Linked DNA regions of Homo sapiens. The protein of the gene in region 2 purifies or fractionates together with the protein of the main gene of each other region. This does not show direct contact. Each region holds a gene or a part of one and is shown on either strand. Other genes may lie near its edges.

Region 1 (7,907 bases), on a different chromosome or scaffold from region 2:
TGGCCTGCCCCTCGGCAGTGTGGTCTCCCACGGACGAAGGCTCCACGTGCCGCACGGGTCTGGGCTGATCAAATCACCTCTGTCATCACCTGCTTTAGCAACAGGGTGGGAAAGGCCGGGCAGTGCCTGGATGAAGGCACAGGAGGCCCCCTACCTTCTGTGAGCGCCCCCCGTCCCCCGCACAGCGTGCCTCAGTTTCGCCACACTCAACGGCCATGGACCTGAGCCCATGAAGCTCAAACCACGGCCCCAGCACCCTCAGGTGACCGAACTGCATGCTGGGAATAAAACCAACTCATGCACCTTGACCAGTACCGGCCCACAGAACCTTCCAGATGATGCGCACACCTCCCACCGATGCTGGTCCACACCAGCCACCAGCCATGTGTGGCTCCTGGGCACTTGAAATATGTCTAAAGGGAAAACACAACTCAATTTTTCTCTTTTTTTCTTTTTCAGAGACAGGGTCTCACTCTGTCACTCAGGCTGGAGACTCCAACTCCTGGGCGCAAGCAACCCTCCTGCCTCAGCCTCCTGAGTAGCTAAGACCACAGGTGCATGCCACCACACCCAGCTAGTTTGTGTATTTTTGGTAGATATAGGTTTTGCTATGCTGCCAAGGCTGGTCTTGAACTCCTGGCCTCAAGTCATCCTCCTGCCTCAGCCTCCCAAAGTCCTGGGATTACAGGCATGAGCCACTGCACCTGGCCCCAGAATTTTCTAATATTACTTTTTAAAAATGTTCCCTTAGAAATTCACAGTTTCTATCATTCCACATGGCTCATTTTCTTTTTTCTTTTTTTTTTTTGTTTGAGATAGAGTCTTGCTCTGTCACCCAGGCTGGAGTACAGTGGCACGATCTCAGCTCACTGCAACCTCCGCCTCCTGGGTTCAAGCAATTCTCCTGCCTCAGCCTCCCAAGTAGCAGGGATTACAGGCATGCGCCACCATGCCCAGCTAATGTTTTTGTATTCTCAGTAGAGACGGGGTTTCACCATGTTGGCCAGGGTGGCCTTGAACTCCTGACCTCAAATGATCCGCCCACCTCAGCCACCCAAAGTGCTGGGATTACAGGTGTGAGCCACCGCACCTGGCCGATTCATCTTCATTTGTTTCCCGCCAGCCCCAGAACAGCCTGGGGCAGACATTCTTGTTTCTTTTGTTCACTTGTCCATTAGCAGTGCTCTAAGCGCAGAGCCCAGCACACAGGAAGTGCTCAAGAAAAGGATTGTTGAATGAATGAATGAGCCTCATCCAGAACACAAAATTCACCCAACTGCACTGCTGAATCCTTTGGTCTCTGACTAGCTTCCACCTCGTAAATCAGGAGTGGACAAGCTTTCCTGCCAAAGGCTGGAGTCTCTGCTCCCACTACTCAACTCTGCCCTTCTGGTGTGAGAGCAGCCACTAACCGTATGTGAATCATTTGGCTGTGTGCCGTAAACCTTTACTTACCAACACTGAAATCTGAATTTCATACCTCTTTCAGGTGTCAGAAATGTTCTTTTTCACCCACCCCCATTTAAAAATGTGAAGTCCATTCATAGCTCCCAGACCTTAAAAAAACAGCCAGGGGCAGGGTTTGGGGGGCCCTAGCTTACCACCTCTGTTTTACTTTATTTATTTCTATTTATTAATTATTATTATAATTATTGAAACAGAGTCTCACTGTGGTCCAGGCTGGAGTGCAGTTGCGTGATCTCAGCTCACTGCAACCTCCGACTCCCAGGTTCAAGTGATTCTCCTGCCTCAGTCTCCTGAGTGGCTGGGATTACAGGCCCATGCCACCACACCCGGCTAATTTTTGTATTTTTAGTAGAGACAAGGTTCCACCATGTTGGCCAGGCTGGTGTCCAACCTCTGACCTCAAGTGATCCACCCACCTCGGCCTCCCAAAGTGCTGGGATTATAGGCGTGAGCCACCGCACCGGCCACTTATTTATTTTTGAGACACAGTCTGGCTGTGTTGCCTAGGCTGTATCCTCCCACTTTAGCCTCCAAGAAGCTGGGGCTACAAGTGTCCACCACCACACCCAGTAATTTTTTTTTTTTTTTGAGACAGTCTCGCACTGTCACCTGGGCTGGAGTGCAGTGGTGCGATCTCGGCTCACTGCAAACTCTGCATCCCGGGTTCAAGCGATTCTCCTGCCTCAGCCTCCCGAGTAGCTGAGATTACAGGCGCCTGCCACTATGCCCAGCTAACTCTGTTTTGTTTTTGTTTTTGTTTTTGTTTTGTTTTTTCATTTTTAGCAGAGACGGGGTTTCACCATGTTGGCCAGGCTGGTCTCGAACTCCTGGGCTCAAGCGATCCTCCCGCCTCATCCTCCGAAAGTGCTGGGCTTACAGGCCTGAACCACAGCGCCCGGCCTCCACCCCTGTCAGAAGAACCCTCTGAAAATCGGTCCCACTCTACGGAGGAGTAGAGGGAGACTCGGAGAGGATACGGACCGTGCCCATGTTGCGGGGGTTCCCAGGGCGTGGGGTCAGGAGTTAGGGGTGTGCTTCTCTCCCGTCCCCTTGCTGCCGGGGTCTCAGGTCCGCTTTTCCCCGGGACCGGGCTCCCCCTACCTTCCGGGGCCAGGATGGTGAACACTGGATCCTCTGCCGGCGCACCCCGCACATCCTCCAGGATCTGCTCCACCGTGGGGGGCGCTGGGCGGGTGGGCAGCAGCACGCGCTTCTTTGCCTTGGAGCCCATCTCTGAAGGCGGGGAAGGGGGCGCTGACCGGGGCGTCCACCTCTCCGCCCTTGCCCGGGCTGCTCCTCCCGCCCAGCGAACTCGTACGCACCCGTCGCGGTCCCGCTCCCGGGGAAGCCCGCCCTGTCCCGCCCCTCTGAGCTCGCCCCAGGCCCTGACCCTCCCTCCGCCCAAAAACACGGTGGCCAAGGCTTCAGGGTCTGGCTCAACCTCTGCCTCAGTTTCCCCGCGGTCACCCCAGTCGCCGGCCTCTTCCCACCTGGGCGCGGGACCCGAAAGCCCAGCGTCGACGACGCAGCCACTTCCGATTCCGGTCGGAGCACCGCCCCGTCCCCGAACACGTGACACACACTTCCGGCCTCCTCTCCCGCCGGCCCGCCGCTCATCGCGGGGCTCCGCCCCGTCTTAAAGGGATAGTGCCCTTGAGACTCGGATCTCAGCCTCTCAGGCGAACCCGAACCTGGACGCGCTACGATGAGAGCGAGTTCGAGTCCAGGCTCCACTGGCTGGGTAGAAAAGCATCCGAGGCTCGTCTTTCTGAAAAGGGGAACACGGCACTAGGGGACACGCCACCCATGTGGCTGACGGGAGCACAAAATTGCTGTCCACCTAAGGGAGCCTGGTGGTGCATGAGCACTCGGCGGCCGGAACACAGCGGGGGCGGGGCGGTCGCGGCGCCTCCACTTCCGGCCAAGGCGGGTCCTCCCACCTCGGGGACGGTGCTGGAGGTCACCTTTTCCTCTCCGCTGATGCCTGGGAAGGCAGAAAGAGCAGAGGGCCCTTTTCCTCTCTCAGGGGCTTTATTGAGATGCAGTTTACATACCATAAAGTTCTCCTGTTTATTTCGTTTTGTTTTGTTTTTTTAGAGACAGAGTCTCACTGTGTCGCCCAGGCCGGAGTGCAGTGGCGTGATCTCAGCTCACTGCAACCTCCGCCTCCCGAGTTCAAGCAATTCTCCTGCCTCAGCCTCCCGAGTAGCTGGGACTACAGGCGCCCGCCACCACGTCCGTCAAAATTTTTTTTTGTATTTTAGTAGAGATGGGGCTTCACTGTGTTGCCCAGGCTGGTGTCAAACTCCTGAGCTCAGGCAATCCGCCCGCCTCAGCCTCCCAAAGTGCTGGGATTACGGGCGTGAGCCACCGCGCCCGGCCAAATTCGCCTGTTTAAACTGTAAATTCAGCCTGGGCGCGGTGGCTCATGCCTGTAATCCCAGCACTTTGGGAGGCCGAGGCGGGCAGATCACTTGAGGCCAGTTTGAGACCAGCCTGGCCAACATGGTGAGACCCCGTCTCTACTAAAAATACAAAAATTAGGCTGGGTGTGTTGGCTCACGCCTGTAATCCCAGCGCTTTGGGAGGCCGAGGTGGGTGGATCACGAGGTCAGGAGATCAAGACCATCCTGGCTAACATGGTGAAACCCTGTCTCTACTAAAAATACAAAAAGAAAAACAAAATTAACCAGGCATGGTGGCGGTTGCCTGTAGTCCCAGCTACTCAGGAGGCTGGGGCAGGAGAATGGCATGAACCCGAGAGGCAGAGCTTGCAGTGAGCCGAGATCGTGCCACTGCACTCCAGCCTGGGCGACAGAGCAAGACTCTGTCTCAAAAAAAAAAATATTGTTGAGAGAGAAGGAAGGAAGGAAGGGACAGAGAGAGGGAAAAGGAAAGAAAGAGAAAGAAAGGAAAGAAGGAAGGAGAAGAAAAAGGAAGGAAGGAGAGAGAGAAAGAAAAAAAAGAAAAAGGAAATAAAGAGAAGAAAGTAAAGAAGAAAAGGGAGAAAAGAAAGGAAAGGAAGGAAAGAGAAGGAAGAACGGAAGAAAGGAAGGCGAGAGAGAAAGAAAAAGAAAAGAAAGAGGAAGAAAGAAAAAGGAAAGAGAAAGAAGGAAAGAAAGAAAGAAAAGGAAAGGAAGGAAGGGGCCAGGTGCGGTGGCTCAAGCCTGTAATCCCAGCACTTTGGGAGGCCGAGGTGGGCGAATCACGAGGTCAGGAGATCGAGACCATCCTGGCCAACATGGTGAAACCCATCTCTACTAAAAAAGGAAGGAAAGAGAAGGAAGAAAGGAAGGAAAGAAGGAAGGAAGTAAAGAAAAGGAAGGAAGGGAGGGAGGGAGGAAAGGGCCAGGCACAGTGGCTCACGCCTGTAATCCCAGCACTTTGGGAGGCCAAGGAGGGAAGATTGCTTGAGGCCAGGGTTCAAGGCTGCAGTGAGCTACAATCGCACCACTGTACTCTAGCCTAGTCAACGTAGGGAGACCCTGTCTCAAAACAAACAAGAAAAAAAACAAAGGAATCACCGCAGGAGAGGATTCTGGGCCATGGTGAGCCATGTTCTGGGGCTGGACATTACTGCTGACCCCCGGCCATTCCCTGCTGTTCCCACTGCCTGGGGTCCCTGGGCCTGGGCGGACTCTTTCTCCGTGGCCGGCTGCATTCTCCATGGACTGATGTCCGGGGACCCCAAGCAGAAACCACCTGAGCCCTGGGGCCTCGGGCCCACCCTGCTCCAGAGGAGGCCACAGACTGAGCACCTTCTAAGCAACCTTTATTTGCAAACTCTGAGGTTGGACGCGGTGCCCGAGGCGGACAGTGTCACGTTTCTCTCCCTCCACTTTCCCCTGGCTTTTGGGGTGCTCCAGCCTCTCCCCCCAGCCCACTCCCGCCCAAACCCAAAATGCAGAGGAGACTTCTCTCTCTCTCTCTCCCGCCAGGCTTCGGGGTTCCACGGGGCCCATCCCTGGCAGGCCAGGCGTCGGGTGCTGGTGCTCGCTCCTCTGGGGCCAGCCTGGGGAGGCAGCATGGCAGCAGTGCCTGTCAGGGACCCAGGCGGGGGCAAGGTCGCTTTCTGAGCTGACAACTTCAGGTTCCAGCTGGCAGCCAGACCTGGGGTTTGGTGGGGGTGGCCCTGGCACGGGAGAGCCAGGCGTATAGTGGGAGGTCCATGGACATGCCGCAGAGGACGGGGCCTCCGAGGGTCACGGCCAGGAGGCTCAGCACCATGGCCGAGGCTGGGCAGCGGTGGTGGGGACAGGCGGCAGCTCTAAGCCGGGGGCGGCTGTCGGGGGTGGTGGGTCCCATGCAGGAGCCCTGCTGCTGGTCCAGCGTGGAGGATGGGGGACAGGAGGTGCAGTCCCTCGGGGAGCCGCCGCGGCAGGTGTAGCAGGAGGCATGGCAGCTGGAGCAGACCCTCAGCGCGGGCGCCGCCGTGTGCCCAGGCCCAGCGGTCACCAGCCTTGTGTGGTTGAAGAACCGCGGGGGGCAGTAGGCCAGGCAGAGCTGTCCCAGGATGTAGGCGGGGCCGTCACACGCTGCTCGGGGACACGCACGCAAAGGCCCGTCAGCTTGCCACCCGCAGCCTGTTACTCGCCACCCGCCCGCCTGGGGCCACATGCACGCTGCCCACGGTGGCCGCCACCGCCTCCCAGCAGTGGGCCCTGCCCCGCCGGCACTCACCCTGGCACAGCCCCTCTGTGTCCCGCTGCACACACGCGCTGCTGGTCACCTGGGGGCCTGTAGGCCGCGCTGTCATGTCCTCGGCCGTCCCATAGAGCAGCAGCGTGTAGCGGTACAACGTCCCTGGACAGGGGTCGCGGGTGGGCACAGGAGGAAAAGGAGGCTCTCGGCAGCCTGGTCCTGGTAGTCCCCGGGCTCCCTCCCCTTCAGCTCCCACGCGGGGCCCTGGACTGGTTCACATCTCTCAGGGAATTGCACACCTACTGTGCGCCTGTCACTGGACACCGACATCTCCCGGGTGACTGCACACCTACTGTGCGCCTGTCACTGGGCACCTACATCTCCCGTGTTACCGCACACCTACTGTGTGCCTGTCATTGCACACCATCTCCCGGGTGACTGCACGCCTACTGTGTGCATGTTCTCTTGGAGAAGGCCACTGGGAACCCCTTTTGCAGTGCGGTCACCAAGGCTAGCTCCAGAGCCCCTGGGGGGAGGTTGGAGAGCCAAGCCCCGCCCACCACAGCCCCGCCCCGCCCTCACCCGTGTTGAAATAGTAGCCCTTGTTCTCTAGGCCCAGGGTCCACACGCCCTGTGGGTTCTCATCCCAGAAGTGGGTGGACATGAAGACCCAGTTGTTGTAGCCTTCAGTGCTGACGTCCAAGGGTCTGGGACAGAAGGGTGGGTGGGGGTGGGGGTGTCAAGAGGGATGGCTTTGTGAAGCCGGCAGAGCCCCATGAAGTGTCTGACCGCACGCGCTGGTGGCCGCGTGTCCTCTGGGTGTGGGTGAGGGTGTGACTCGGGGTCCCACCAACTAGGCTGCCGTGTGACTCCTATGGGCCTGGCCCCTCCCCGTGAGGACACTCCGGGTAGATGGCAGCGTTTACCGACAGGGCATGAGGCCGCCCCCTCTCCTCTGCGGGCCGCTCACCGTATGGCCACGAGTGTGGAGCGCGTGCCCATGGGGCTGGTGAGCGAGATCTCCAGGTCTCCGCGCCGGCTGTAGGACAGCGTCAGCTGCGCCTGCACGTGCTCCAGCGAGCGGATGGAGTTGTGGAGGCCGGCGCAGGCCGATACGTTTTCCCTGATGTAGATCAGCGGCAGGATGGGGCTGAGGGGGTCGAGGGGTGAGGACCCTCCTGCGGCCTGCTGGGGGGTGGGTGGGCGGCCAGCAGGCGAGGTCGGGGCTCAGAGGTCACGGGGTCCAGCCCTCGTTTTACAGATGGGTAAACTGAGGCCTCAGGCCTGTCCCCCACACCCCCAGCGGGGATAGCGGAGGGGCGCGCAGGGGTCTCACGTGGGGCGGCTCTGGACCCGGACGGCGCACTTCCTCTGCGGCTGGGTGGGCAGCCAGGTGCGGGCGGTGTCCACCAGCAGCCCGGCGTCCAGCAGCCCGTATCCGTAGTGATGGCTCACTGCGCGGAAGGGCAGCAGTCACTCGCCCCGTGGGCCCCGGGTCCCCGCCCCCGCCCGGCCCCGCCGCACCTTGGCGCCCCACGCCGTTGGTCCTCCAGTCCTCGGCCTGCAGGTGCGCCGGCTTGGACGCGCGGACCACCAGGTGCTGCATGTCTCTCCACGTCAGGAACGGGCTGCGGGGGGCGGGGGCGGGGGCGGGTGAGCCGCCGGGCCGCGCCTGGGGGCGAGGGCGGTGGACCGGGCCCCGCAGTCACCTACTTGGCCTCCAGCGCTAGGGCGATCATGCCGGCCGCCAGTGGGGCTGAGGCCGAGGTGCCCGTGTGCTGGTCTGTGCACCCGTGATG
Region 2 (7,142 bases):
TATATATTTATATATATTTACATATATATTTATATACTTACTATTTATATATTATATATTATTTATATATAATTATTTATATAATTATATATGTAATACATATATATATACACACACACAGATAGGTGTATCTGTTGCTTTATCCTAAGTGAACACAGATACTGCATCACTAGGGAGCGACATTGTGAACCGCAGAACACTCCCTGCAGTCCCCTGAGCTCAGTCTGGTCCTTGGGGGTGATCCTGGGGGCACCCATCACGCCCACGCCCTTTCCGTACCTTAACAGGTGTAGGCAGGGTGTTGTGTGTCTCCCAGGGGCCGTGCAGAATCTCCTAACCCGAGAGAGGAAGAGCAGGGTTCCAGGTGGACACTGGGATCCCTGGACCCTGCCCCGCCCACCCCACTGCCTCTAGGGACAGAAGAGGGGCTGGGGGAGGGAGGTTGGGGACCATGCCCAGACACAGCCAATGAGGAGGTCCTGATGGAGAGGCAGGGCTGAAGGAGAGGGCGCAGGAGAGAGACTCAGACGAGAGGGGGCCATCTGCCCGGGGAAAGGGCCTCTCCAAGCGCAGGGCTGTACGTATGCACCACTGGCAACAGCTACCCTGCTGTTGTTAATCCTAAGCCATCGCTTCTTCCCTGGAACTTTAAGGGACAAACTCAGAACTGCAGTGTGGGTAGGGTTGGAGGGAGGGAGCGTCTCTGTGGTTCTCCAAGGGGACCTCACCTCTCCCACCCACCCCAAGGTTGGTCAGTCTGAATGGTGCAGCCAGGCGGGGACCTGGCAGAAGGCATCTGAAAAGCATGTGCTTTTACAAACACAGGGTTGCCCACCGTCCCGTACGTCCCATGCACGCCTCTCTCAGCCTCTGACCTAATTGTCCTCTTGTGGGGTGGGGGAGGCCAATATTTGGGAAAAGGGGCAGCATCCTGGTGCACGTAGGACGCTGGCACCTGTCTGGCAGTGCCTAAATGAAAGTACTGCTTTTCCAATGTGGGATAATTCCTTTTTTTTTTTTTTTTTTTTTGAGACAGAGTCTCACTCTGTCACCCAGGCTGGAGTGCAGTGGCGCGATCTTGGCTCACCGCAACCTCCGCCTCCTGGGTTCAAGTGATTCTGCTGCCTTAGCGTGCCGAGTAACTGGGATGACAGGTGCCCGCCGCCACACTCGGCTAATTTTGGTATTTTTAGTAGAGACGGGGTTTCACTATGTTGGCCAGGCTGGTCTCAAACCCCTGACCTCAAGTGATCCACCCACCTCGGCCTCCCAAAGTGCTGGGATTACAGGCGTCTGTCACCGCCGTAAACACAAAATATGCTACTATCTGGCGCTGCTTGCCAAAGTCAAGTGGGCTATGCAAGGAGGAACGGAACGGGAAGGAGAGATTGAACGGCGCAGTCAGGTGCACCTGCTTCCCCACGGGCTTCAGCTCCTCAGCGGTTTTCACTTAGGGCTCTCGCGCTTCAGACTTCTCATCCACGTTACGTAAAGATAACAACATGGGAAGAAACAACCACACACACACACACACACACAGACACACACACAGACACACACACACACACACACACAAACCCTTTTCTTTTTGGGAACAGAGCCACGTGACCATGGTTCCCCTTTATAGAAATGGGACCTAAAGCGCCACAGCAGGCCTTGTTGTGTGTGGCCTGAAATTCCCAGAGCAGCTCCCTCTGCCTTTTCTCAGCTTTTTAGGGGACAGATCTGACAAGACCCAAGGAATTGGGGTTTCTAAGCGGACCTGTACAAATGAGGTCTGAGGTGGCCGTGAGACCCGGGTCTGGGGTCTCCCTGGCACCGAGGGGGTGACGAGGGGCCACCGTGCTCATCCAGGCACCCATAGGGCTTTAAAACCCGTTTAATTTATGCTTACTCTTCCATTATTGGAACGCTAAGCATTTGGGAGTTATTTATATCCCACGGCTCAAGGTCATCGCCAAGGTCTCATTGCAAACATTGAAAAAACTGCAATCTCAGGCGTAAATGGGTTACGTGCAGCAGCCGCAGCTGCTTACCCTCTCTAAGGTTAACCTCAAGAGAGGCGCATTTCATGGAATGAGTTTTTTTTTGTTTTTTTTTTTCTAAACAGAGTCTCGCTCTGTCGCCCAGGCTGGAGTGCAGTGGCGTGATCTCTGCTCACTGCAAGCTCCACCTCCAGGGATCATGCCATTCTCCTGCCTCAGCCTCCCGAGTAGCTGGGACCGCAGGCGCCCACCACCAAGCCCAGCTAATTTTTGTATTTTTAGTAGAGACGGGGTTTCACCGTGTTAGCCAGGATGGTCTCGAACTCCTGACCTCAGATGATCCACCCACCTCGGTCCCCCAAAGTGCTGGGATTACAGGCACCTGCCACCACGCCTGGCTAATTTTTGTATTTTTAGTAGAGACGGGGTTTCACCGTGTTAGCCAGGATGGTCTCGAACTCCTGACCTCGTGATCCGCCCACCTCGGCCTCTGAAAGTTCATGGAATGAGTTATTAAAGGAAGGGTGGCTTGCAGCCCTGGAAAATTTGAGCATTTCTCCCCTAAGTGACGAAGCGGCTGTGCAAAGTCTTCCTCCCAGGAAATTTGCACTCCTGGTCTGCTCTAGCGTGAGGAGAACACGCCTCATGGAGTTTGCACCGTCTTCCCCCATGTTCTCACCGTACACGGACCCTCCCAGCGACCCTGTCTTCTCCCTTGACAGTGCAGGACAAGCATAAAAGTCCAGCTCGGCGGCTCACCTGTGCAGAAGCAGCGGCAGAAGTAGCAGGTGAGAGCTCAGAGGGTCTCCAGGTAACAGGATGCAACGCTTAAGTCGACGGCCGTGCCTCAGAGCCCGGGACTCGGGGGGCCAGCCACCAGCTTGCAAGCCGTGGTCACTCAAAGTGCTTGAGAAGGTGTTCGTGGGCGGCAGACGGCTGCCCTTCCAGTTCCATCTGTCCAGCAACCTTGCAAAGGCGGCCGCTTCGCTGGGTGGCCCACCGGCTGGCACGACTGTCTCCGAATGCAAATTCTGCAAACTCCACCTCCCAGCGCACCACCACGGTTGCGACTCAGGCTTAGGTGGAAAGGAAGTGTGTTGTGACATTTCCTCTGTAACTGTCTGAACACTCATGTGCAGGGCTGAGCCCACTGGAGTAACGTCGCTGTGTCTCTGGGCAGCACCGTTAACCGCCCACCTCCCTATCACTGGCTCGCAGGGGGCCCTACTCTTAAGAGAACCCTGAGAGTGAGGAAAAGAGGGAGAATGATTTTTCTAAATTTTGTAACCAGCAGTGAAGAGCCGTGGCATGCTCCAGAACCGATTCCTGTTTCTTCTGAAATAACAAAACAAAACAAAGAAAGAACAGAACACGTTTCCTTTTAGACTCTAAAGCTGTGCTCATTGCGACATCTCTTGGTACACAGCCAGACTGTGACAAGCGAACAGACCTTGGGCACTGATCATTCCGGCTCTCACAGTTGGTCACGGGCGCTGCAGGCTCATATCCTCAACATCCCATGGGGGATCGGCCAGTTTCAGGAATGAGAACCAGGTTTCCGAGCTCTGGTATCCTTGCTTGTGAGGAGCAACGGTTGGTTCTTGTCACTCGTGGGAGGAGGTTGAGAGGGAAGGATCTGTCACTGAGAAAGAATGAATGAATATTGAACCACTGCTCAGGGAAAAGACATGGTAGAATCAATCCCTCAAGCCAGGCTGGGTGTGGTGGCTCACGCCTGTAGTCCCAGCACTTTGGGAGGCCAAGGCGGGTGGATCACTTCAGGTCAGGAGTTTGAGACCAGCCTGGCCAACATGGCGAAATCCCGTCCCTACTAAAAACACAAAAATTAGCTGGGTGTGGTGGTGGACACCTGTAGTCCCAGCTACTGGGGAGGCTGAGGCAGGAGAATCACTTGAACCTGGGAGGTGGAGGTTGCAGTGAGCCAAGATCAGGCCATTGCACTCCAGTCTGGGTGACAGTGAGACTGTCCCAAAAAACAAACAAACAAACAAAAAGACCAGGCCTGCTGGCTCACGCCTATAATCCCAGCACTTTGGGAGGCCAAGGCGGGTGGATCACTTGAGGTCAGGAGTTCGAGACCAGCCTGGCCAACATAGCGAAATCCCGTCCCTACTAAAAATACAAAAATTAGCTGGGCATGGTGGTGGATGCCTGTAATCCTAGCTACTGGGGAGGCTGAGGCAGGAGAATCACTTGAACCCGGGAGCTGGAGGTTGCAGTGAGCCAAGATCAGGCCATTGCACTCCAGCCTGGGTAACAGAGTGAGACTGTCTCAAAAAAAAAAAAAAAGTCGAGGCCTGGTGGCTCACACCTGTATTCCCAGCACTTTGAGGTGCCAAGGTGGGCCGGATCACTTGAGGTCAGGAGTTCGAGACCAGCCTGGCCAACATAGCGAAACCTGTCCCTTAAAAATACAAAAATTAGCTAGGCGTGGTGGTGGACGCCTGTAATCCCAGCTACTGGGGAGGCTGAGGCAGGAGAAGCATGTGAACCTAGGAGGTGGAGGTGGCAGTGAGCCCAGATTGGGCCATTGTACCCCAGCCTGGGTGACAGAGTGAGACTGTCTCAAAAAAAAAAAAAAAAAAAGGCCAGGCCTGGTGGCTCACGCCTATAATCCCAGCACTTTGGGAGGCCAAGGCGGGTGGATCACTTGAGATCAGCAGTTCAAGACTAGCCTGGCCAACATGGCGAAACCCTGTCTCTACTAAAAATACAAAAATTAGCTGGGTGTGATGGTGGGGGCCTGTAGTTCCAGCTACTGGGGAGGCTGAGGCAAGAGAATGACTTGAACCAGAGAGGCAGAGGTTGCAGAGAGCCGAGATCATGCCACTGCACTCCAGCCTGGGCAACAGAGAGAGACCCTGTCTCAAAAAAAAAAAAAAAAAAAATCAAAAGAATCCTTCAGGCCCCTGGTCACAGTGTTTTCTTCAACAGATCAATAAGTAGCTTTATATTATGTGTGTTTCTGTTTGAAAACACCTTATTAAGGAAATCGTTCTGTAAAAGGACATCCACACTCACAGTTCATCACAGCACTATTCACCATAGCAAAGACACAGAGTCAACCCAGGTGCTTATCCACCATGCATCGGATAAAGAAAATAGGGTACGTGACCGGCGGGTGCAGAGGCTCACGCCTGTAATCCCAGCAGTCTGGGAGGCCGAGGCAGGTGGATCACCTGAGGTCAGGAGTTCGAGACCAGACTGGTCAACATGGAGAAACCCCCTCTCTACTAAAAATACAAAAAATAATCTTGGCGTGGTGAAAGACACCTGTAATCCCAGCTATTTGGGAGACTGAGTCAGGAGGATCGCTTGAACCCGGGAGGCGGAGGTTGCAGTGAGCCGAGATCATGCCGCTGCACCCCAGCCTGGGCAACAAGAGCGAAACTCTGTCTCAAAAAATAAATAAATAAACAAATAAAAATAAAAAATAATAAAATGGGGTACATAGACACCATGGAATAGTACAAAGCTGTGAAAAAGAATGAAATCATGTCCTTTGCAGCAACTTGGATCCAGCCGGAGGCCATTCTCCAAAGTAAATTAATACAGAGACAGAAAGCCAAATACCGCATGTTCTCACTTATAAGCAGGAGGTAAACACAGGGTACTCATGGACATAAAGATGGGAACAACAGGCCAGGCGTGGTGGCTCATGCCTGTAATCCCAGCACTGTGGGAGGCCGAGGTGGGTGGATCACCTGAGGTGAGGAGTTTGAGACCAGCCTGACCAACATGATGAAACCCTGTCTGTACTAAAAACACAAAAATTAGCTGGGCATGGTCACAGACACCTGTAATCTCAGCTACTCGGGAGGCTGAGGCAGGAGAATCGCTTGAACCCGGGAAGAGGAGGTTGCAGTCGCTACTAAAAGTACAAAAATTACTCGAGCATGGTGGCACATGCCTGTAATCCCAGCTACTCAGGAGGCTGAGGCAGGAGAATCGCTTGAACCCTGGAGGTGGAGGTTGCAGTGAGCCAAGATCGCACCACTGCACTCCAGCCTGGGCAACAGGAGTGAAAATTCTGTCTCAAAAAAAAAAAAAAAGATGGGAAGAAGAGGCGTTACAGACTCCTAGAGTGGGGAGGGAGGGAGATGAAGGGCTGAAAAACTACCTACTGGGTGCTAAACTCAGTAGCTAGGTCATGAGATCATTCATACCCAAAATCTCAGCATCACACAAGATACCCTTGTAACAAACCTGCACATGTACCCCCGGAATCTAAAATAAAGTAAAGGCTGGGCACAGTGGCTCATGCCTATAATCCCAGGACTTTGGGAGGCCGAGGTGGGCGGATCACCTGAGGTCAGGAGTTCAAGACCAGCCTGGCCAACATGGTGAAATACTGTCTGTACTAAAAATACAAAAATTAGCCGGGTATGGTCACAGACACCTGTAATCTCAGCTACTAGAGAGGCTAAGGCAGGAGAATCGCTTGAACCCGGGAAGTGGAGGTTGCAGTCTCTACCAAAAATACAAAAATTAACCAGGCGTGGTGGCATATGCCTGTAGTCTCAGCAACTCGGAACGCTGAGGCAGGAGAATTGCTTGAACCCGGGAGGCAGAGATTGCAGTGAGCCGAGATCATGCCACTGCACTCCAGCCTGGGCGTCAGAGTGAGACTCTGTCTCAAAAAAAAAAAAAAAAAAAAAAAAAAAAAAGGAAAGAAAATCAAAGGCAGAGTCTATTCATCAGTTTGTGAAGTGTTTGTCTTCAGGATTACAGTGGTCCCTCCTTCTTCATGGTAGACGTGGTCCATAAAGTCGGAGCAAACGCTGAGTTAACAAATACAAACCGTCCTGCAAAAAGTCCACACTTAGACGCCTGTAGCTTTTGTACCTCTGGTCCCCAAATTTTTCACAGCTGATCCATACATAACCTTATTTTACGTGTGTTTCTGTTTAAAAAGCCGTATGGAGTCGATATTGTGGACGCAGTCACATTGAACTCACAGCCAACGGCATTATAATTCATGCCTGGGCAAAGCGTCTCTAACACACCTATTTTCTCCAGAAGACGCGCTGCAGTCTTCATGGGCTTACGGATGCTAGGCAGCTTTGCAGCTTCTGGGGCTTTTGAAACAGAAATCGCCAACAAAATGCACAAAAATGTAAAAATACCTGGCACTCA
Region 3 (5,573 bases), on a different chromosome or scaffold from region 2:
AACAAGAGCGATACTCTGTCTCAAAAAAAAAAAAAAAAAGTAGCCAGGTGTGGTGGCACACATTTATAGTCCTAGCTACTCAGGAGGCTGAGGTGGGAGGATCTCCTGAGCCTGGGAGGTCGAGGCTGCAGCGACCTGTGAGTGTGCCATTGCACTGCAGCCTGGGTAACAGAGCAACACCCTGTCTGGGAAAAAAAAAAACAAACAAAAACAGGCTGTTAGCTTTGATGCAAAATAATGTTTTGTTGTTGTTGTTGTTGTTGTTGTTATTGTTTTAAGCAGGCTGGCCGGGTGCTGTGGTTCATGCCTGTAATCCCAGCACTTTGAGAGGCCAAGGCAGGCAGATCACCTGAGGTCAGGAGTTCAAGACCAGTCAGGCCAAAATTATGAAACACCCCATCTCTATTAAAAAAATACAAAAATTAGCCAGGTGTGGTGGCAGGCACCTGTAATCTCAGCTACTTGGGAGGCTGAAGCAGGAGAATCACTTGAACCCCGGGAGGCAGAGGTTGCAGTGAGCCGAGATCGCGCCACTGCACTCCAGCCTGGGCAACAAAAGCGAAACTCTGTCTCAAACAAACAAAAAGGCTACAAAACCATATATAGAGTGTGGCTCCCGTTTTTGGAAAAAATAAGTATATATAAAAAAACTATAGAAGGATAGAGGAGAATATCCACCAAATATTAACTAGTGGTGACTAGATGGTGGGATTCTAGGTGCTCTTACTGTCTTCTCTTTTTTTGTTCTGAAAACAGGTAGTTTTTCTGCCATGAGATAAATTATTTGTGTAGATTGTTTTTAGTGAAAAAAAAAAAAAAAAACTAGGCTGGGTGTGGTGGTTCATGCCTGTAATCCCAACACTTGGGGAGACCAAGGCAGGAGGATTGCCTGAGTCTAAGAGTTTGAGACCAGTCTGGGCAATGTAGTGAGACCCTGTCTCTACAAAAAATTGGAAAGTTAGCTAGATGTGGTGGTTCTTGCCTGTGGTCCCAGCTACTCAGGTGGCTGAGGTAGGAAGATTGCTTGAGCCCGGGAGGCGGAGGTTGCAGTGAGCCAAGATCACGCCACTGCACTCCAGCCTGCGCAACAAAGTGAGACCCCGTCTCCAAAAAAATAATAAAAAAAAGAAGGAAAAAGAATAAATAAAACAAGAAAAAAAAAGGAATACTTAGAACCTTTTCTGATGCCTTGTGACTTTCAGAATTTAAAATCCCCCTTGCAGATAAGGCCACCCACGGCGGAAGGCCGGGAGCGAGACGGGGCTGAGGGGACCTTGCTCCCATTGGAGCTGCAGGGCAGGAAGGGGTGCTGCGGTCAGCAGAGGGCACCCTTCGCCTGCGCCGTGTGCAGTGCCTGCAGTCACTCCCTCATTCCCAGGAGTAGCCTTGGGTCAGATGCTGGCTCAGATCTATAACTGCTCCTGTCTGGTAGCCAGGCCTGCCCAGATGTGCAATGGCTGGAATAAAGGGTTCTTGGAAGCAATTTGTTACAGGCACCCTGTGGGCTGTGGCTGGCTGTGGCACACGTGAAGGTTGTGTGTCAGACCTACTCCCTGGACATGGCGCATGGCTGCACACAGGCACCTTGGCTGAGAAGATGCACAGTCCTGGTTTCACTCTCCTCCCCTGCCCTGTCCTGTCTGCTTCCACCCAGCTCTGCAGGCCACCAGCCCCCGCCTCTCGTGGCCACCCCCAGCCCAGCATGTCCTCAGCCGCACATCTCCTGTGTCGACAGGTGAAGTCCCGCTTGGCTTTTGGGAAGCCCCTGGTGGAGCAGGGCACAGTGCTGGCGGACATCGCGCAGTCGCGCGTGGAGATTGAGCAGGCACGGCTGCTGGTGCTGAGAGCTGCCCACCTCATGGACCTGGCAGGAAACAAGGTAGGGGCAGGGGCACGAGGGGGCCTCCCAGAGGCAGAGATTCTTCCTCCTCACTCAGCAAAGCATGAGAGCCTGGCTTCTTGACATTAGAAACTTTATTTCACCTCTACTTGGAGCTGTTTGGGCAGTTTTTCAAAAATTGGAAAGGCACAAGAAGAGAGGACTGGCCTTTGTGTTTTACTGACCTGGTGAGCTGCTTAGTCCAAGGCAGTGGGTCTGATGGGGCCACAGGGCCCCTGGGTGGCCCTGGACTCCCAGGGCCATTGGTGGAGGTGTTGGGCAACCTAAGAGTAAGGCAGGGAAAAGGGACCCTCTGCTGGCCTTCATCTGAATATTGAATTAACAAAAATAGAAGCTTATTTTCAAGTGTGACATTAGTCATTCACTAAGGCTCTTTTTAACCTTTTATTTATTTATTTTTTGAGACAGGGCCTTGCTCTGTAGCCAGGCTAGAATGCAGTGGTACATCATGGCTCACTGAAGCCTCAGCCTCCCAAGTAGCTGGGACTCCAGGCGCAAACCTCCATGCCCAGCTAATTCTTTATTTTTTGTAGAGACCGGCTCTCACCATGTTGCCCAGGCTAACTAAGGCTCTTTCTAAGTGCCTGTGATGACCAAGCACAATGCCATGTTGACCTTGCTTTGTCCAGCTTTCTGTGGGGCAGCCTCCAACCCCACCCAAGACCCTCAACCATCAGGGACCAACCCATGCTCATGCTCACAGTTCCTGGTTCTTTGACGCTGGCGTGCTAGATATGGTGGAGGCTGCTGGGTGTCTCCCTTGAACACCCTGCCCCAGGGCAGATCACTGTAGCTCGGTTTCCCAGAGCCCTGAGTGGCCTTGGTCCACTGCTGCTTGGAGGCAGAGCTGGCCGTGACCCTGAGCAAAGCACAGGACCCTCCCCTTATCCCTTCAGTGTGTGCTGGCTGTGTTCCCCGTCATCTGGGAAGACAGCCACATTCTGCCAGCACTTGCTTCGCATCTTGTGACATAAGATAATAGTTGCCAACATGGCGCCCTTCATCCCTGGGTGCTGTCAAGCCGTACACCAGGCAGGGGCAGCCTCACCCAGCTCACATCAGCGAGACCTTGGGGCCTCTGTTTTGGACGGTGGTGTTTGACTTCTTGCTGGGAATCTGATCATTCTTCCAGGCTTTCTGCCTTCGGGTCTTTTTTGTGGTTTAGTTTTTCGTTTTGTTTTTGAGAGACAGAGTCTCACTCGGTGGCCCAGGCTGGAGTAGAGTGGCACAATCTTGGCTCACTGCAACCTCCGCCTCCCGGGTTCAAGCAGCTCTCTTGCCTCAGTTTCCCAAGTAGCTGGGACTACAGGTGTGCACCATCACGCCCAGCTAATTTTTGTATTTTTTAGTAGAGACTGGGTTTCACTATATGTTGGCCAGGTTGGTCTCAAACTCCTGACCTCAGGTGATCTGCCCGCCTCGGCCTCCCAAAGTGCTGGAATCACAGGCCTGAACCACCGCGCCTGGCCTGTTGTTTGTTTTTGAGAGGGGGTCTCACTCTGTTGTCCAGGCTTGAGTGCAGTGTTGCAATCTCAGCTTACCACAGCCCCCAACTTCCCAGACTCAAACAATCCTCTCACCTCAGCCTCCTGAGTAGCTGGGACTACAAGCACATGCTACCACACCCTGCTAGTTTTTGTATTTTTAGTAGAGATGGGGGACGGGGGGGCCTCACTCTGCCACCCAGGCTGCCCTCGGGTCTTTTATGATCGCATCTCCTCCTCCTTACAGGCTGCAGCCTTGGATATAGCCATGATTAAAATGGTCGCCCCGTCCATGGCCTCCCGAGTGATTGATCGTGCGATTCAGGTGAGCACAGACCAGACAGTTGGCTTATTTGAACCATCAATACTAGATGCCAAACTCTCCTATCTTCAGCCGCCCAGCCTCCCATAGACCCTGGCAGATGCCCTGTGTCACCCACTCACCATGCATGCAACTTTCCTTTTCCTCTTCAGAATGACCCAGCAAGGTGGGAGGTGCCATCGTACCCCCATTTTGAATGTGAGGAAACAGGCACAGAAAAGTGAAGTGACTTGTCCAGGTCACTGAGCTTGCAAGTAGCTGACCTCAAATTCACATGAACTTGGGTTTTCATAAGCCCAGAGCCCAGGCTCTTTCCCATGCAGGGGGGCCGCCTCCTTAGATCCTAACCCCCGGCCCCAGCACAGGGCAGAAGGCACCTGCAGAGTGGGCCTGGGGAGTCTGGAGGCCGTGGGATGGCAGGTGTGGCCCCATGGAAGCCCTCTGGAATATTAGTGATTGTATCACATAGGTGCCACAGGGAAGTCCGGGAAGATGGTTGTTATGGGCCATCAAGAGCAGGCTATCATTCCTGGGGCTCTCGGAGACAAGGGCTGACCCAGGGCCGCCTCCCTCCACTCTGTGTCTGCCAGGCCTTTGGAGCAGCAGGCCTGAGCAGCGACTACCCACTGGCTCAGTTCTTCACCTGGGCCCGAGCCCTGCGCTTTGCCGACGGCCCTGACGAGGTGCACCGGGCCACGGTGGCCAAGCTAGAGCTGAAGCACCGCATTTAGAGCCTTGGGGCTGCAGTGGCTCAATGTCCTGGCTGGTCCAGCTGTGCCCAGATCTGTCACTGATGTGCCTCGAAAGATCCGGTGTTTGTGGCTCCTGCACCCTGCTCAGCAGCTCTGTCCCGGGACAGTCAGGGTGGACTCAATCTTTCTGGTTCTCCACAGAAGACGTCTCTGCAAGAAGCCTGGAGTCTGTTTCAGGCCAGGAGGAGGGGATTTGCTGAGGGCCAAGGGGGTTCTGGGACAGAGTCTGGAAAGCTGGTCTTCAGGCTCTCAGTCCCAGGCTGGGCAGGCACGGTCACTTCACTTCAGCCTTTCAGTCCCTCTCTCTCTGCCTGTGGGAATCTGGACACATTTTGGGAGGCCTCCCAAGGCTGTGGGACGTGCTTGCTCTGGCAGCTGCAGGGTTCCTGTCTGGCCTCCCTGGTGAGCAGAGGGGCGGCCACGGCGGGCGGTGGCCTAGAGACCCAGGACCTGGGCGCCTGGGAAAATGGAATGCAACCCACATTGTAAAGCCACTGGCATCTGATTATCTCCATTTGAACACACAGCACAGAACAATCATTTAAATGTTATTTTGGAAAGGGGTTTTGGGGACACAGAAGAATAAGTAAACACATCTCGGAGGCTTTGTGGACTTTCTGTGTCATACAAAGAGAATCGAGTGGAGAGGTTCCCTTCAGCGCCTTCATGCCTCCTCCTGCCTGTGTTTCCTCGAGGTCCAGGCCATCATCTCAGCCCCATACATGCTGGGAGCACAGAGGCCACGGGTCCGATAAGTCCCGAGTTGGCTGCCTTCCCTCACTATGTAGCCCGGGGCTCTGTGCTCATACATACTTTACCCAGGAGCTGGCATGTGAGGCCCCTGCAGCCTCCACCTGCTCCATAGTCAGAATATCTGGGCGAAGGGGAGGTGGTGGCCCATTCGCCATTACACTTTGGAGCACAATCTCTCTTCTCTGAGGAGAGTGGAAATGCTTACTCACTTGCAGTCTGAGCTCCTTGAGAAACCCAGCGACATGCAGAGGTGAGCCAGGGGCAGTGAGGCCCCAGCCTGCTCGTCTCATAACTCGTGGTGGGGTAGCCAAAACTCGTCTCAGGTTAGACCAGACGGGCAGGAACCATCCCCCCCGGCTGCC

The links. The genes of interacting proteins can lie anywhere in the genome.
Region 1: the proteins of P2RY8 (region 2) and C19orf25 purify together in Homo sapiens (affinity purification with mass spectrometry; 3 studies listed by BioGRID and IntAct, with this or other methods). This does not show direct contact.
Region 3: the proteins of P2RY8 (region 2) and ACAD10 purify together in Homo sapiens (affinity purification with mass spectrometry; 3 studies listed by BioGRID and IntAct, with this or other methods). This does not show direct contact.

The regions. Positions count from the first base shown.
Region 1 is NC_000019.10:1,476,206-1,484,112, forward strand, and holds the start of C19orf25 (UPF0449 protein C19orf25), read right to left. Parts: upstream 3,011-7,907; 5' UTR 2,958-3,010; exon of another isoform or gene 2,935-2,957; intron 2,701-2,934; 5' UTR 2,699-2,700; coding exon 2,569-2,698; intron 1-2,568. Other genes in the region: PCSK4 (proprotein convertase subtilisin/kexin type 4), read right to left, coding at 5,554-6,002, 6,148-6,270, 6,691-6,815, 7,079-7,258, 7,445-7,562, 7,633-7,736, 7,822-7,907.
Region 2 is NC_000023.11:1,534,177-1,541,318, forward strand, and holds the start of P2RY8 (S-geranylgeranyl-glutathione receptor P2RY8), read right to left. Parts: upstream 3,010-7,142; 5' UTR 2,745-3,009; intron 1-2,744. UniProt on the Homo sapiens protein: G protein-coupled receptor for S-geranylgeranyl-glutathione (GGG), an endogenous metabolite present in lymphoid tissues.
Region 3 is NC_000012.12:111,752,037-111,757,609, forward strand, and holds the end of ACAD10 (acyl-CoA dehydrogenase family member 10), read left to right. Parts: intron 1-1,735; coding exon 1,736-1,879; intron 1,880-3,631; coding exon 3,632-3,709; intron 3,710-4,296; coding exon 4,297-4,437; 3' UTR 4,438-5,063; downstream 5,064-5,573.